Homo sapiens: one gene and its partner. The protein of the gene in region 2 interacts with the protein of the main gene of each other region in a pairwise test. Each region holds a gene or a part of one and is shown on either strand. Other genes may lie near its edges.

What was found. Proteins that work in one complex are often made in the same cells at the same time.
Region 1: the proteins of MORN3 (region 2) and MB21D2 interact in binary tests that used the Homo sapiens proteins (3 or more experiments, as listed by UniProt).

What each region holds. Positions count from the first base shown.
Region 1 is NC_000003.12:192,914,855-192,922,050, reverse strand, and holds the start of MB21D2 (nucleotidyltransferase MB21D2), read left to right. Parts: upstream 1-4,194; 5' UTR 4,195-4,210; coding exon 4,211-4,421; intron 4,422-7,196. UniProt on the Homo sapiens protein: Probable nucleotidyltransferase that catalyzes the formation of cyclic dinucleotide second messenger in response to some unknown stimulus.
Region 2 is NC_000012.12:121,652,655-121,659,676, reverse strand, and holds part of MORN3 (MORN repeat-containing protein 3), read left to right. Parts: intron 1-328; coding exon 329-486; intron 487-5,243; coding exon 5,244-5,403; intron 5,404-6,417; coding exon 6,418-6,602; intron 6,603-6,868; coding exon 6,869-6,943; 3' UTR 6,944-6,949; intron 6,950-7,022. UniProt on the Homo sapiens protein: Assembles a suppression complex (suppresome) by tethering SIRT1 and MDM2 to regulate composite modifications of p53/TP53.

The DNA of each region.
Region 1 (7,196 bases), on a different chromosome or scaffold from region 2:
ACATGCTAATAAAATTTGGGAGTTGGGAGTAGAAGGGCAAGTTCTACCTCTAAGTGTGACAGCAGTTTGGAAATGCAGGCTGTTACTCTGTTCTGTTTGATGCTGCAAGAGCCAGCAAAGGAAAAGCCTACCTTAGTGCTTGTTTAGATGGTAGACTCCACTGACCTTTGTCCATCTGTCAAAATTCTAGAGATATGCATTTTTATTCAAGCCTCAGACACTCTTTAACATCTTCTAATAATGATTTTCTCTCTCTCTCCACCTTCCTCTCTATCTCTCTTCCTTCTCTTAGGTCATATAACATACACAGGGAGAAAAAGGCATAAAAATTGGGGCATTTAATTAAATGCATGCAGAAATACTTACATTTATAACAACACTTAACTAAATACTGGGAAACCATAGATAGCTTACATTGAGATATTTAAATTGTAGCAAAAATCACCTAAATTCTGACTTCTTGGACTTTGAGGGATGGTATTAGTTCATTCTTTTTTATTATTATTTTTTCTGAGAAGGAGTCTCCCTCTGTTGCCCAGGCTGGAGTGCAGTGGTGCAACCTCGGCTCACCATAACTTCCACCTCCCGGGTTCAAGCGATTCTCCTGCCTCAGCCTCTCAACTAGCTGGGACTACAGGTGCATGCCACCATGCCTAGCTAATTTTTGAATTTTTAGTAGAGATGGGGTTTCACTATGTTGGCCAGGCTGGTCTTGAACTCCTGACCTTGTGATCTGCCCGCCTTGGCCTCCTAAAGTGCTGGGATTACAGGTGTGAGTCATCGTGCCCGGCTTCATTCATTCTTTTATATATTCATTTGAACATATAAACTAAGGTCATAAGATGGGTCAAGAACTAAATTAAATGCAGTGTTTACACAGGTGAAGAAACACAGTACTTGCCCTTGAGAAGCTCAGAGGTTAAAAAGTCTCCCAATAGATCAATTCAGGAAATTATGGTTTTTGATCGTTTTTCTCTATTCTTCTAATTCAACAAGGGATATTGACACAATCTTATCAGCGTTCTATTAGAGCCTAGGAAGGTGTTAGTTTACCATCCAATTACATTATCTGGATATGCGGGCTCACTGAGGGTCCATGATTCATAGAAATCTGATCTGGCTGACGGGAAGGAGAACAGACAATGAGGAACATCAGAGAGACCACTCACTCATTCAAACCCCCAGGGTCCAGCACTACGGCACAACAGGAATACTTTCTGCTAACAACCTGTTGTTTCTTTATGGATATAAATATCATAAGAAAAGGTAAAATTAAGGGAAGATTAGTGATGCCTCATTCATATGTTTGGAAATTAACAAATAAAAAGTGTTTCGATTTTGTTGTCTGAAGTATTTCTTAACTGTACATGGTTTGGAGGTAACTAGAACCATTCTGCTCTATGGAATGACTGCCTCAGCCAGCTGTCGCACAGGTGCCTGCCATTGATCACTAGTGAAGCACTGACAGATGGGAGTGGATCACTTTGTGCTGGAGTTCCAAACACTTATGTGGCTTCTAGTACTGCCCAGGTAATGTTAATATCCTCTCAGGATGAGAAGTCAGGGCAGCATAGCAGAGCTGCGAAAGCCAGAGCTTGCTTTGTTTGTTTGTTTGTTTGTTTGTTTGGAGATGGAGTCTCACTCTGTCACCCAGGGTGGAGTACAGTGGCGCGATCTCGGCTCACTGCAACTTCCGCCTCCTGGGTTCAAGCAATTCTCCTGCCTCAGCCTCCCAAGTAGCTGGGACTACAGGTGCACGCCGCCACAACTGGCTAATTTTTTGTATGTTTAGTAGAGATGGGATTTCATCGTGTTACCCAGGCTGGTCTCGAACTCCTGAGCTCAGGCAATCTGCCCGCCTCGGCCTCCAAAGTACTGGGATTAGAGGCGTGAACCACCACGCCCTGCCTAAAAACCAGAGTTTTTAAGTCACTTCCTCATCAGTCCACCAGCATTTATCTAGGCATGGATCCTCTCTCTTTCATACTGAGTGGGTGAGGAAGTGTGTTTCAAAGAGAAGGAAACGAAAAGTAAGAGAAATTAACTGGTTATGCCACAATTCTTCACTCATTACTTGATTCAATAAACATAGAGGACCCTTCGGTAGGACCATATGCTGCAGGAAATACAAAGATGAATAAGATGTAGCCCTCATCCCCAAGAATCTTTTAGTCTAAAACTTGCATTAACAATGATGAAGTGGTCAGGTGTGGTGGCTCACGCCTGTAATCCCTTTGAGAGATCTAGATGCAAGGACTGTTTAATCCCAGGAGGTTGAGGTTGCTGTGAGCCACGATTGTGCCACTGCACTCTGGCCTGGGCTACAGAGGAAGACCCTGTTTCAGAAACAAACAAACACACACACACACAACCCAAAACAAAAAGCAATGATGAAGCAAGGTCAAAATTCATTAGCATCATATGAAAGCTTCTGAGAGTAGGTTCTGAGGAAGGAAAAGTTGCCACCAGCTTGAGGGGAGGGTCTCCGGAAAGCTGTAAGAAAAAGGCAGACGCGGATTGGTTTTGGTGTAAACGGAGTAAAGAAGAGAGGAATTCCAGGGGGAGGTCAGTGGTCAGGTCTGTGTTTTCTAAAGATCACTCTGGCAACAAGTTGTTACTAGATTGAGGAACAGTGAAAGAATTAATAACAATAATAGTAGAAGCTGATAATAGCTAAGTACTTATTATGTCAGTCCTTGAACTAAGTGCTTGACCTGTTTTATCTCACGTAATCCTTAAAACAACCTGTGAGACAGGAATTATTATTCCCATTTTATAGGGGAAGGCATGGAAGAGTCCGTACTTCCTTCCATGTCTAACAAAACAATTTGTATTCTTGGCCATGAGAACTCGGGTAAGAAAGTGAAACAGACCTGATCTAAATCAGGGACTGTGGGATAGAGAAGAGAGATTTTGGAGAATTAGGGAGGAAGATAACCTATGTTTCTCACAGCCAATGGGCCTCCTAAGTGTTTGAATGATACACCCCATAAACACTAAAACCACCTCTGAGACTCTATTCTGCCTAAAGGACTATGACTTAGATTGAACCTGCCTTGTCATGTAAGCCTAACTCCATGGTAGGAGCCATGTCTTTTGGTTATCACTGTCACATTCTGTCACTCCATCTGGCAAATGGTGCGTACTCAAATTTTATCTGTTGAATGAGAAAATTTTCATCTTGTCATCCAACATTTCTTGGAACCTGGGGCAATACATTGTTTCCCCTCTCCCACACCCACACTTCAGTTTCCCTATCTTTATATTAGAGTAGGTTGAATCTCATTAACTCATTATATGTTAAGATAAATAAGCTGTTATTCAGGTCATTAATTACCTTGGGCAAAGGTAGGGATATCTAGGGGTTAGTGGGAGTGCCAATACTGGGTTAGATGTGGACCCTCTTTTTTTATACGCTCAATCCTATCATCTTGGCAATCCAAGAGGAAAAGGGTAGAAGACAGGTTTCATATTCCTTAAGGCAGTTTCCTTTACTATTTAAAGGTATTGGAGTTCTTGGGATAGAGAGGTAAACGCGCACAGAGATGTCCTCCCCCAGGACACCGCCCTTAAAATCAAACGGAGGAAGACTTTCTTCTCCTTGAATGCGCTTGGCAAACCCTGCCCAGAAAGGGGATGGGGGGACGGCCGTGGAGGTGGAGAAAGAATGCATCCACACCTCGCGCGTCTTCCCAAGTACGGATTGGCAAGTGGTATATGCGTGCAGACCTCTGTCATTTATTTATTTTCCTTTCCACTGGGTGCGCTGTCCCTTTAAATGGAGACGCTGGTGCTGGCTCCGTAACACCGGAGCCGGCAGCTTGTTGATTTCAGAGCTGGTGAATTTCACATTGTTTCCACTTCACTTTCCTCGCCCGGGGGAGGCTCCAGTTGGCTCTACGACCGCCGTTGCCGCTGCCAGAGAGGGCCAGGGCAGGGCAGGGACGCGCAGCATCGGGGCGGGCGTGGGGCCGGAGAAAAGGGTGTCGGGGCCACACACGCACCCTCGCTGCAGTCCAGCTCCTCCCGAAGCTCGCACGCCCAGAGCGCACGGAGCGGGGGACTGCCCGCCCAGACGCCCGCCCGCCAACCCGCCCACGAGCCGGGGCCAAAGCCTGGGAGCCTGCGAGGGGAGGAGGCCCAGGGGGGCGGGGTGGGGGGCGGGGGTGGGTGCCGCGCTGCCGCGGAGCTGCTACTCGGCGCGTTTTGCATGAAGATGGCGGCTCCCACCGCCAACAAGGCAGCCTCCCTGGGCTGTAACAACAAGCCTGCGTTCCCGGAGCTGGATTTCAGGTCGGGAGCTCGGGTGGAGGAATTGAACAAACTCATCCAAGAATTTACGAAGCACGACCAGCGGGAATACGACGACCAGAGAGCGCTGGAGATTCACACAGCCAAGGATTTCATCTTTTCCATGCTGGGTAAGGAGGAAAAAGGGGGAGGTGTGTGTGCGTGTGTGTGTGTGATGGGAAGCGGAGTAGAAAACCCATTGCCGCTTCTCGACCTCTTCCCTTCTGGGTTGCCTTCCCGAGCCGGTGCCTTGGGTATAAGCCATCTCTGTTCCGCCTCTCTCTTCTTTCTCCGCCGAAAGCCGAGCTGCCTGCCCTCCCCTCCTTACTATACTTTACGCCGGGTCTCCCTTTCCCCCTGTTCGCTTGCTCTTTTGTTAATTTCTCCGCCACCTGGGGCTGGCAGGCAGGTGAGGCGTTCGCGGTGAAGCGTTGCACTGTTGGGGGAAGCCCCTGGAAGCGAGTGCAGTCCAGGTGAGCCCCTGAGGTGCCTTCAGTTGAGGGATTTGGCTGCCGGAGGCAGGGACCTCCGCTTTCCCGACGCCGGCTCTTGGGTGCTCTCCCGAGCTTGGGAGCGGAGACGGCTCAGGGCTCTGGCTTGGCGCCCGAGCGACAAGTTGCTTCTGTCGTCTCGCGGCGCGGCGCTGTCATGCCGAGCCCCCGGTGGCCAAACTTGTTGGGTGTTCCCGAGTAACCCGCTGAAGTAGTCTAGGCGTCCGGAGTTCCTGCAACTTTGATTTGCAAATTGACTTCTCTTATGAAGCGATCGGAAGCATTTCCGGTGCTTCTTCAGGGCTCTCGCTGAGCTCGGAATTCTTAATTCCCAGCTCTTCCGTGACTAGGCGCGGAGCTCTGGCCGCAGAGGAGCGCCGGTTCCCTGCTCTTTGTGTATTGTCTTAGCGCTGGCCGAAAGAGGTGCCCAGAGTTTCCAACCGCGGAGACGTCGGGGGCTAGAAAATGTGTCCCCCACTCCCACCTCCAGCCCCTCACCTACGGCTCCTGAAACATGATTGAATGCTGTGTAAAGGAACATAATTGAGCCAGGCCCGGGAGACCGAGCCCACCCTCCCCAGGTGTCCTGCCGTTGGGATTATTGCTACTGAGGTGTAGTGTGAGTTTGCCAGGCGCCTGGGTTGTAACTTGCGGCTCCGCCAGCGGATCCGTGGCTGTCAAGCGGTGCGTGGCCGGCGGTCAACATTCCGAAGAACTGGTACTCCAGGGTAGCGCTGCTCTAACGCTCGTCTCTGGGTGCTCTCTACAAATAGATAAGCCAATTTTCCAGGTGTTGAAAAATTTGATTGGGAAAGGTCTTTTGGCCACAGACTAAGACAGGGCTTTTCTCTTTCTCCTGCAATCTAATTGGGTTTCAGCCGGCTGTTGCTGCTTCTATCCTGGGATACCTTCTTCCTTCTAGGTTTTCTTCTTCCTCACTGCCCAAGGACGGGGTAATACAGACTGAACGTGTCTGTGTCCGCTGGTAGTTGTTCACGCGTTGGGAAGTTAGATGAAACATGTTAAAACTCTAGGCTGGTTTTTACCTTTTGCGCCGCACTCTTCAAGTGTGTCTTACGTTGCGTATGAGGTTGAAAAACTATTGAGAGATTCAGCCGTTCAACTATGTAGATGAATAGATGAATTAAATATATATATATATATATATATAAAACCTGGTAGGAGTGAGCTTCCACAGGGAAGCCTAAAATGCTTACAAAGCCAAAAGCCAACACAGTGATTGTCAGGAAGGTGGGGCCACACACAGAAGGCTGAGCGCAGTTACTTAAGTTGTTTAGTTAATCATAGCCTTTCTCTGTGGCATAAATAATGGAAGTCTGCCATTGTGTTAATACAGCCCCCAGATCAGTTCTGATGTCACTTGCGTAGGTCATTTACTAGAAGAAGGTACTGGGTCACCACCAGTTAGGGTAGTCATGGGTCAGGAAATGGGATAATGTAGGGAGGGTAAATTTAAGTGCCTGGCTCATGAGGAACTTCTGTGCTTAACTCCAAAGCTGATACACTGAATCAGCAAAGCTTTTATCCAAATATAAAAAAGTAAATTATTCTAGGGTGCTTAATTTTTGCATGTGTTTAATGCCATGGGTGGCATTGTGTTGACAGGTAAACTAGATTTGCTTCTATTCCTTTTTACCCAGTTGACCTTGCAAGCAGTCTTTCTTGCCCCCTGGGAATTTAGCATTTCCACCTGCAGGAGAGAAGATTCAAGAGAGTGTCATTTAAGCCTTTTGCCCCTCTGGACACTAGAAGGCAGATGGCGAAATGAGCTTGCTTGCCTGTGTGTGGTGCTGCATTCATTTGCGAGTTCCTTGCTTTCCTTTAATGAGATGCTGGCTGCTCTACACAAGTGGAGGTTTGGCGACAGCAAGGGTTCCTATGTGGATTTACTTTTTCTAAAGCAGATTTTGGCTTGGCTTAAAGAACAAAATCATTTTTTTTATACACTTTGTTTCACTTGCCATAGCTTTGGTTCTTTGATGACTATGCAAATGAAGTCTCTTAATGACCCCTAGCTTGTTAAGGTGTTACTTGGGTGGTACCAGGCCCTCATTTCAGGGCGGGGGGGTGGAGGGTGGCCAGTCCTCTTGGCTTTGTTCTGTATCTGAGCTGCACCTGGGGATTGTTAGCAGCTTACAGATATTATCCCCTCACACAGAATGAAGTGGCCAACCACGAATTGGGTGCAAGCCTCTTTAGTGGAGCTGAGAAAAATACTGCCTCATGTTTCAGGCAGTTGGCAGGGGTGAGGCATGTTACTCTCTTTTTGTGTAAGATTGTTAGCCAAGTCTGAAGCCCCTCCAGCTTCACAGATCCTTTTCATTTTGTCTAGTTTGGAGGAATTTTACACTGAAGAGCAAGGAGGTGGTAGACAGCTGTCATAATCAATGACCT
Region 2 (7,022 bases):
TGTAGTCCTAGCTACTCTGGAGGCTGAGGCAGGAGTATCTCCTGAACCCGGGAGGCAGAGGTTGCAGTGAGCTGAGATCGCGCCACTGCACTCCAGCCTGGGCGACAGAGTGAGACACTGCCTCAAAAAAAAAAAAGAAAGAAAGAAAGAAAGAAAGAAATGGAACTTTCCTGGCCTTCTCCTGGGTACTTGGTGTCTAGGATGATGCGCAGAGCCTGTCCCAGCTCTCTAGATTCGTCTAGTTGGGGGCCCCTGAGGCTCAGGCAGGCACACCACCCCCACCCCCCGGCGGCCATGTCTGCAGCATTGCCCATCTGTGTGTCACCAGGGAAAGGAACACAGGTCTGGAAGAAGAAAGGAGCCATCTATGAGGGGGACTGGAAGTTTGGGAAGCGAGACGGCTACGGCACCCTCAGCCTTCCTGACCAACAGACAGGAAAGTGCAGGAGAGTCTACTCAGGCTGGTGGAAAGGTGATAAGAAATCGGTGAGCAGGCCTGCCAGCCGGGGTGTGTGTGTGTGTGTGTGTGTGTGTGTGTGCGCGCGTGTGTGTTTAGGGGAAGCCGAGAGAGGCCTGGGAGAAAAGAGAGGGGAGGTCTACAGGGAGGAGGACAGGGTTGTGCTGCTCGTGGGAGAAGGAAGGGGTGGGGGAATTGCAAAGTTTCTCAGAACAAAACCCAGGAAACAGGAAGCAACAGAAGGCCAGGGAGGAGCCCACGAAACCCTGCGGTTGCGAGGAGCCAGCCAGGCTTGTGGGGACGAAGTCGCCTCCACCCTTTTCCCCCTCGTTTCCTGGCTTTCTTTTCCCCAGGTATCACTTTCTGAGAATCCCCTTTCTGCTGGGCCTGAATAAAAGGGAGGTAGGAAAAGTGGGAGCAAGAGAGCAGGGGACAGGAGAGGAGGGTCCCGGGGGGCCGAAGCCAGCCAGAGGCGCGTGCTCAGCCCGGAAACACCCAAGCTGGGCACAGGTTCCCTCCATCTACTCCCACAAGTGTGGAGGAATCCTCACCATCAGTCCCAGAGACACTAATAATAAACAGTATTGCAACTGAGCAACTGCTACTGTGAGCCTGAAACACATATTTAAAACTTTTTTTTTTTTTTTTTTTTTTGAGAGGGAGTCTCATCCTGCCGCCCAGGCTGGAGTGCAGTGGCGCCATCTTGGCTCACTGCGAGCTCCGCCTCCCGGGTTCACGCCATTCTCCTGCCTCAGCTTCCCAGGTTGCTGGGACTACAGGCGCCCGCCACCACGCCCGGCTAATTTTTTGTATTTTCAGTAAAGACGGGGTTTCACCGTGTTAGCCAGGATGGTCTCCATCCCCTGACCTCGTGATCCGCCCGCCTCGGCCTTCCAAAGTGCTGGGATTACAGGCGTGAGCCACCGCGCCCGGCCTGAAACACATTTAATATTCAGTTAACTCTCACAGCAACAGCTCATCATCATCATCATCTTCATGCCCATTTTATTGATAAGCAAACAAGCTCGAAGAGATGAGGTGTCTTGTAACTGCCCAAGGGGTTCACCTTGCCGGTGCCTGGCCTTGAGTTGTATTATTACTCAAATCAGTCTCCCCGAACATTCCAGCAGCAGAGTTTTTAAGGATAACTTGGTGGGTGGGGGAAAGACAGTGAACCAGGAGTGCTGATTGGTCAGAGATAAAATCATAGGGAGTCAAAGCTGTCTTCTTGCTCCCCAGACAGAGCCGATTCATCAAGACGGGAATTGCAATAGAGAAAGAGTAATTAACACAGAACTGGCTGTGTGGGAGACCTGAGTTTTATTATTATTATTATTAATTTATTTATTTTTTGAGATGGAGTTTCGCTCTTGTCGCCACGCTGGAGTGCAATGGTGTGATCTCGGCTCACCGCAACCTCCGCCTCCTGGGTTCAAGCGATTCTCCTGCCTCAGTCTCCCGAGTAGCTGGGATTACAGGCATGTGGTACCACACACTGCTAATTTTGTATTTTTAGTAGAGACAGAGTTTCTCCATATTGGCCAGGCTGGTCTCGAACTCCCGACCTCAGGTGATCCGCCAGCCTGGGCCTCCCAAAGTGCTAAGATTACGGGCATGAGCCACCGCGCCTGGCCCTGGGTTGTATTATTACTCAAATCAGTCTCCCGGAACATTCTGGCTGCAGAGTTTTTAAGGATAACTTGGTGGGTGGGGGAAAGAGTAAGCCAGGCGTGCTGATTGGTCAGAGATAAAATCACAGGGAGTCAAAGCTGTCTTCTTGCCCTGAGTCAGTTCCTAGGTGGGGAGCCACAAGATCACATAAATCAGTTTATTGATTTGGGTAGTGCCAGCTGATCCATCAAGTGCAAGGTCTGCAAAATATCTTAAGCATTGATCTTAGGAGCAGTTTAGTGAGGATCAGAATCTTGTAGCTTCCAGCTGCATGACTCCTAAACCATAATTTATAATCTTGTAGCTAATGTTAATCCTACAAAGGCAATCTAGTCCCCAGGCAAGAAGGAGGTCTTCGGGAAAGGGCTGTTACTGTCTTTGTTTAAACTATAAACTATAAGTTTCTCCCAAAGTTAGTTCAGCTTAAGCCCAGGAATGGACATGGACAGCTTAGAGGTTAGAAGCAAGATGGAGTCAGTTAAATTAAATCTCTTTCACTGTCTCAGTCATAATTTTGCAAAGGCAGTTTCAGTCTTGCCTGGAGTCACACAGCTAGCAAGTGGTAGAGCCCAGGGTTTCATGTTCTCTGCTCCCAAATTGTTTATTGGCAAGTAGGAAGAGAAAGCCCTGAATAACCAATTTACGTAGAATATGGTATTAGGAGGGATGTTTTCACAGGGTGCCCAGAGGAAGGTCATCAAGCCCAGCCTAGAGAATTCAGGACAGAAGGCTAAGCACAATGGCTCACGCCTGTAATCCCAGCAATTTGGGAGGCAGACAGGGGTGTATCACTTGAGGTCAGGAGTTCGAGACTAGCCTGGCCAACATGGTGAAACCCCCGTCTCTACTAAATAAAAAACACAAAAAAAATTAGCCGGGCATAGTGGTGTGTACCTGTAGTCCCAGCTAGGGAGACGGAGACATTAGAATCGCTTGAAGCCAGGAGGCAGAGGTGGCAGTGAACCGAGATCACGCCACTGCACTTCAGCCTGGGCAACAGAGTGAGACTCCATCTCAAAATAAATAAATAAATAAATAAAACTATATAATAATAATAATTAGCTAGATGTTGTGGTGCACATCTGTAGTCCCAACTTTTCAAAAGGCTGAGGCAGGAGGATTGCTTGATCTCAGGAGGCTGAGGTTATAGTGAGCTATGGTGGTGCCACTACACTCCAGCCTGGACAACAGAGCAAGACTTGTCTCAAAAAGAGGGAATTCAGGGCAGGCTTCCTGTAGGAGGTGACACTAAAAGATGCTAGGAGTTAGCCAGGAAGAAAAAAAAGGGAGAAAGATGGGAGGCAAAAAAATAGCAAAGGGAACGAGATGTAAAACAGCAGAGTGTGTCTGCCCTGGGACAGGAGTGAGGAGAAGAGTTGCGGGGGCCCTCAGGGATATGTGGGAAATCAGGATTTTGAGGAGTAGACTTGGCTTCTCAACCCAACCTCCTCGGGTGTGATCTGCAAACAGACCTTGTTTCCCTGTGGTTGGACACTAAGTGTGGTGTTTTTTGTTTTTTGAGACGGAGTCTTTCTCTGTTGCCCAGGCTGGAGTACAGTGGCGCGATCTTGGCTCACTGCAAGCTCCGCCTCCTGGTTCACGGCCTTCTCCTGCCTCAGCCTCCCGAGTAGCTGGGACTACGGGCACCCACCACCACACCCAGCTAATTTTTTTGTATTTTTAGTAGAGACGGGTTTTCACCATGTTAGCCAGGATGGTCTCGATCTCCTGACCTTGTGATCCGCCTGCCTTGGCCTCCCAAAGTGCTGGGATTACAAGCGTGAGCCACAGCGCCCAGCCTAAGTGTGGTGTTTTTTGTTTGTTTGTTTGTTTGTTTTTTGAGACAGTCTTGCTCTGTTGCCCAGGTGGGAGTGCAATGGCACGATCTGGGCTCACTGCAACCTCCGACTCCTGGGTTCAAGCAATTCTTCTGCCTCAGCCTCCCAAGTAGCTAGTATTACAGGTGCCCACCACCACACTCAGCTAATTTTTTATATTTTTAATAGAGACAGGGTTTTGCCACGTTGGTCAGGCTGGTCTAAAACTCCTGACCTCAGGTGATCCATCTGCCTCGGCCTCCCAAAGTGCTGGGATTATAGGCGTAAGCCACCACGCCAGGCTAAGTATGGTGTTTATGTTCATTTTTCTGGGTCAAAATAAGAGTGGGAGGGGGGCGAGCATGATCAGATGGGCGATTTTTTTTTTTTTTGAGATAGCGTCTCACCCTGTCACCTAGGCTACCGTGCATTCTCAGCTCACTGCAACCTCCATCTCCCAGGTTCAAGTGATTCTCCTGCCTCAGCCTCCCCAGTAACTGGGATCACAGGCGCCGCCATCACGCCCAGCTAATTTTTTGTATTTTTGGTAGAGATGGGGTTTCACCATGTTGGCCAGGCTGGTCTCAAACTCCTGACCTCAAGTGATCCACCCACCTCAGCCTCCTAAAGTGAGCCGGTGAGCCACAGCGCCCAGCCTAGATGGGCGATTTAAAGAGTCCTCCGGCGCTGTAGGGGCTGCATGGCGCATGGTGTGGTGGGGATGAGAGAGGAGAGGGTGGGTCAGTAAGGAGGGAGTTTAATGACTGGCTGCATGGAGGCGCCAGCAGAGGGACAGAGAGAAACAGAGCATGGGGAGATCCTTCAAGACATTATCGGTGGGCACTATGGCTCACACCTGTAATCCCAGCACTTTGGGAGGCTGAGGCGGGCGGATCACTTGAAGTCAGGAGTTCAAGACCAGCCTGGCCAACATGGTGAAACCCTGTCTCTCCTAAAAATACAAAAATTAGCAGGGCGTGGTGATGCGTGTTTGTAATCCCAGCTTCTCGGGAGGCTGAGGCAGGAGAATCACTTGAACCCGGGGGACGGAGGTTACAGTGAGCCGAGATCACATCACTGCACTCCAGCCTGGGTGACAGAGTGGATCTCTGTCTAAAAACAAACAAACAAACAAAAAAGACAGGATACTCCGCTAAGACACGACCCTCCGCTTGGACGTAGGGCTGAGGAAGAAGGAAGAAGCTGGGGTGTGTGGCTCTAGGGGTGCCTGGGAAGACGGTGGGCTTTCCTGGTGGTGTTGGGGGGCGCCCTGAGTAGTAGCATCTTCGTACTTTCAGGGTTATGGGATCCAGTTTTTCGGACCCAAGGAGTATTATGAGGGTGACTGGTGTGGCAGCCAGCGCAGCGGGTGGGGCCGCATGTATTACAGCAACGGCGACATCTACGAGGGACAGTGGGAGAACGACAAGCCCAACGGGGAGGGCATGCTGCGCCTGAGTGAGTGCCCCACCCCCGCCGGCCCCGCCCACCCGACCACGCCCCCGGCAGCGAGCTGGCCACGCCCATTTGGTCCCACAGAGACAGGCCACACCCCACACTCTTGTCCCACACTGACCCTTGTGTCAATGTGGGACAAGAGAGGAAGAGCACCCTATCTCTCCCCTCAGTCACAAAAGGTCACATATATATGATGCTATTTATATGAAATTTTTAGGACACGCACCTCCACAGAGACAGAAAGTAGACTAATGGTTGCCTAGGACTATGGGGGTGGTGACATTAGTGGGTGTGGGGAATGGCTGCTTAATGGGCACAGGGTTTCCTTTTCGGGTGATTAAAACGTTTTGAAACTAGATAGAGGTAATGGTTGCACAGCATTGTGAATGTACTAAATGCCACTGAACTATACACTTCAAAATGGCCAACTTATGTTATATGAACTTATATCTCAATTTTTAAAAAAAAAGCCAGGCGCAGTGGCTCATGCCTGTAATCCCAGCACTTTGGGAGGCAGAGGCGGGCGGATCATGAGGTCAGGAGTTTGAGATCAGCCTGGCCAACGTGGAGAAACCCTGTCTCTACTAAAAATACAAAAAGTAGCTGCATGTGGTGGTATACACCTGTAATCCCAGCTACTCAGGAGGCTGAGGCAGGAGAATCACTTGAACTCGGGAGGCGGAGGTTGTCACTCAGGCTGGAGTGCTGTGGGGCAATCTCAGCTCACTGCAGCCTCAACTTCTTGAGCTCAAGCCATCCTCCCACCTCAGCCTCCAGAGTAGCTGGGACTATAGGTGCACACCACTATGCCCAGCTAATTAAAAAAATTTTTTTTTTTGCAGAGATGTGGTCTCACTATGTTGCTCAGGCTGGTCTTGATCTCCTGGGCTTATGAGCCTCCCATCTTGGCCTCCCAATGTGTTAGGATTTGCACTGAGCTCTGGAAGAGCGACCCCTGGGGGTCTAGCTTAGTTTGGTGTACCCTGCACCACACCTCCCTGTCCTTTCCCCCAGAGAACGGGAACCGCTACGAGGGCTGCTGGGAGAGAGGCATGAAGAACGGGGCGGGGCGTTTCTTCCATCTGGACCACGGCCAGCTGTTTGAAGGCTTCTGGGTGGACAATATGGCCAAATGCGGGACGATGATCGACTTTGGCCGTGACGAGGCCCCTGAGCCCACTCAGTTCCCCATTCCTGAGGTGGGCAGCCCTCACCAGGGCCCTGTGGCCACACCCAGACAGAGACAGAAGCCAGCATCCCCAGCCATGCCCAGGCCAGATCTGCCAGGCCCAGCCAAGCCCAGACAGGGAACAGACAAGGTTTTGTTTTCAGTCAGGGCATCCCTAGCAAGGGAGGTGGCTCCTGATGAGGCTGGCAGCACCCCACACGGCAGGCAGCGCCAGTCAAGGCTGGCAGCCTGGGTCCTCCATGCTCTCCAAACCAACTTCTTGGTATTTCCCTCCAGGTCAAAATCCTAGACCCTGATGGTGTGCTGGCGGAGGCCTTGGCCATGTTCAGGAAGACAGAGGAAGGAGATTGATGCCAGGTGAGGGGTGGGCACACCTGCCAAGTTCTGATGTGGCTGAGGCTGCTCCAGGGCCCAGAACAATGCACAGATC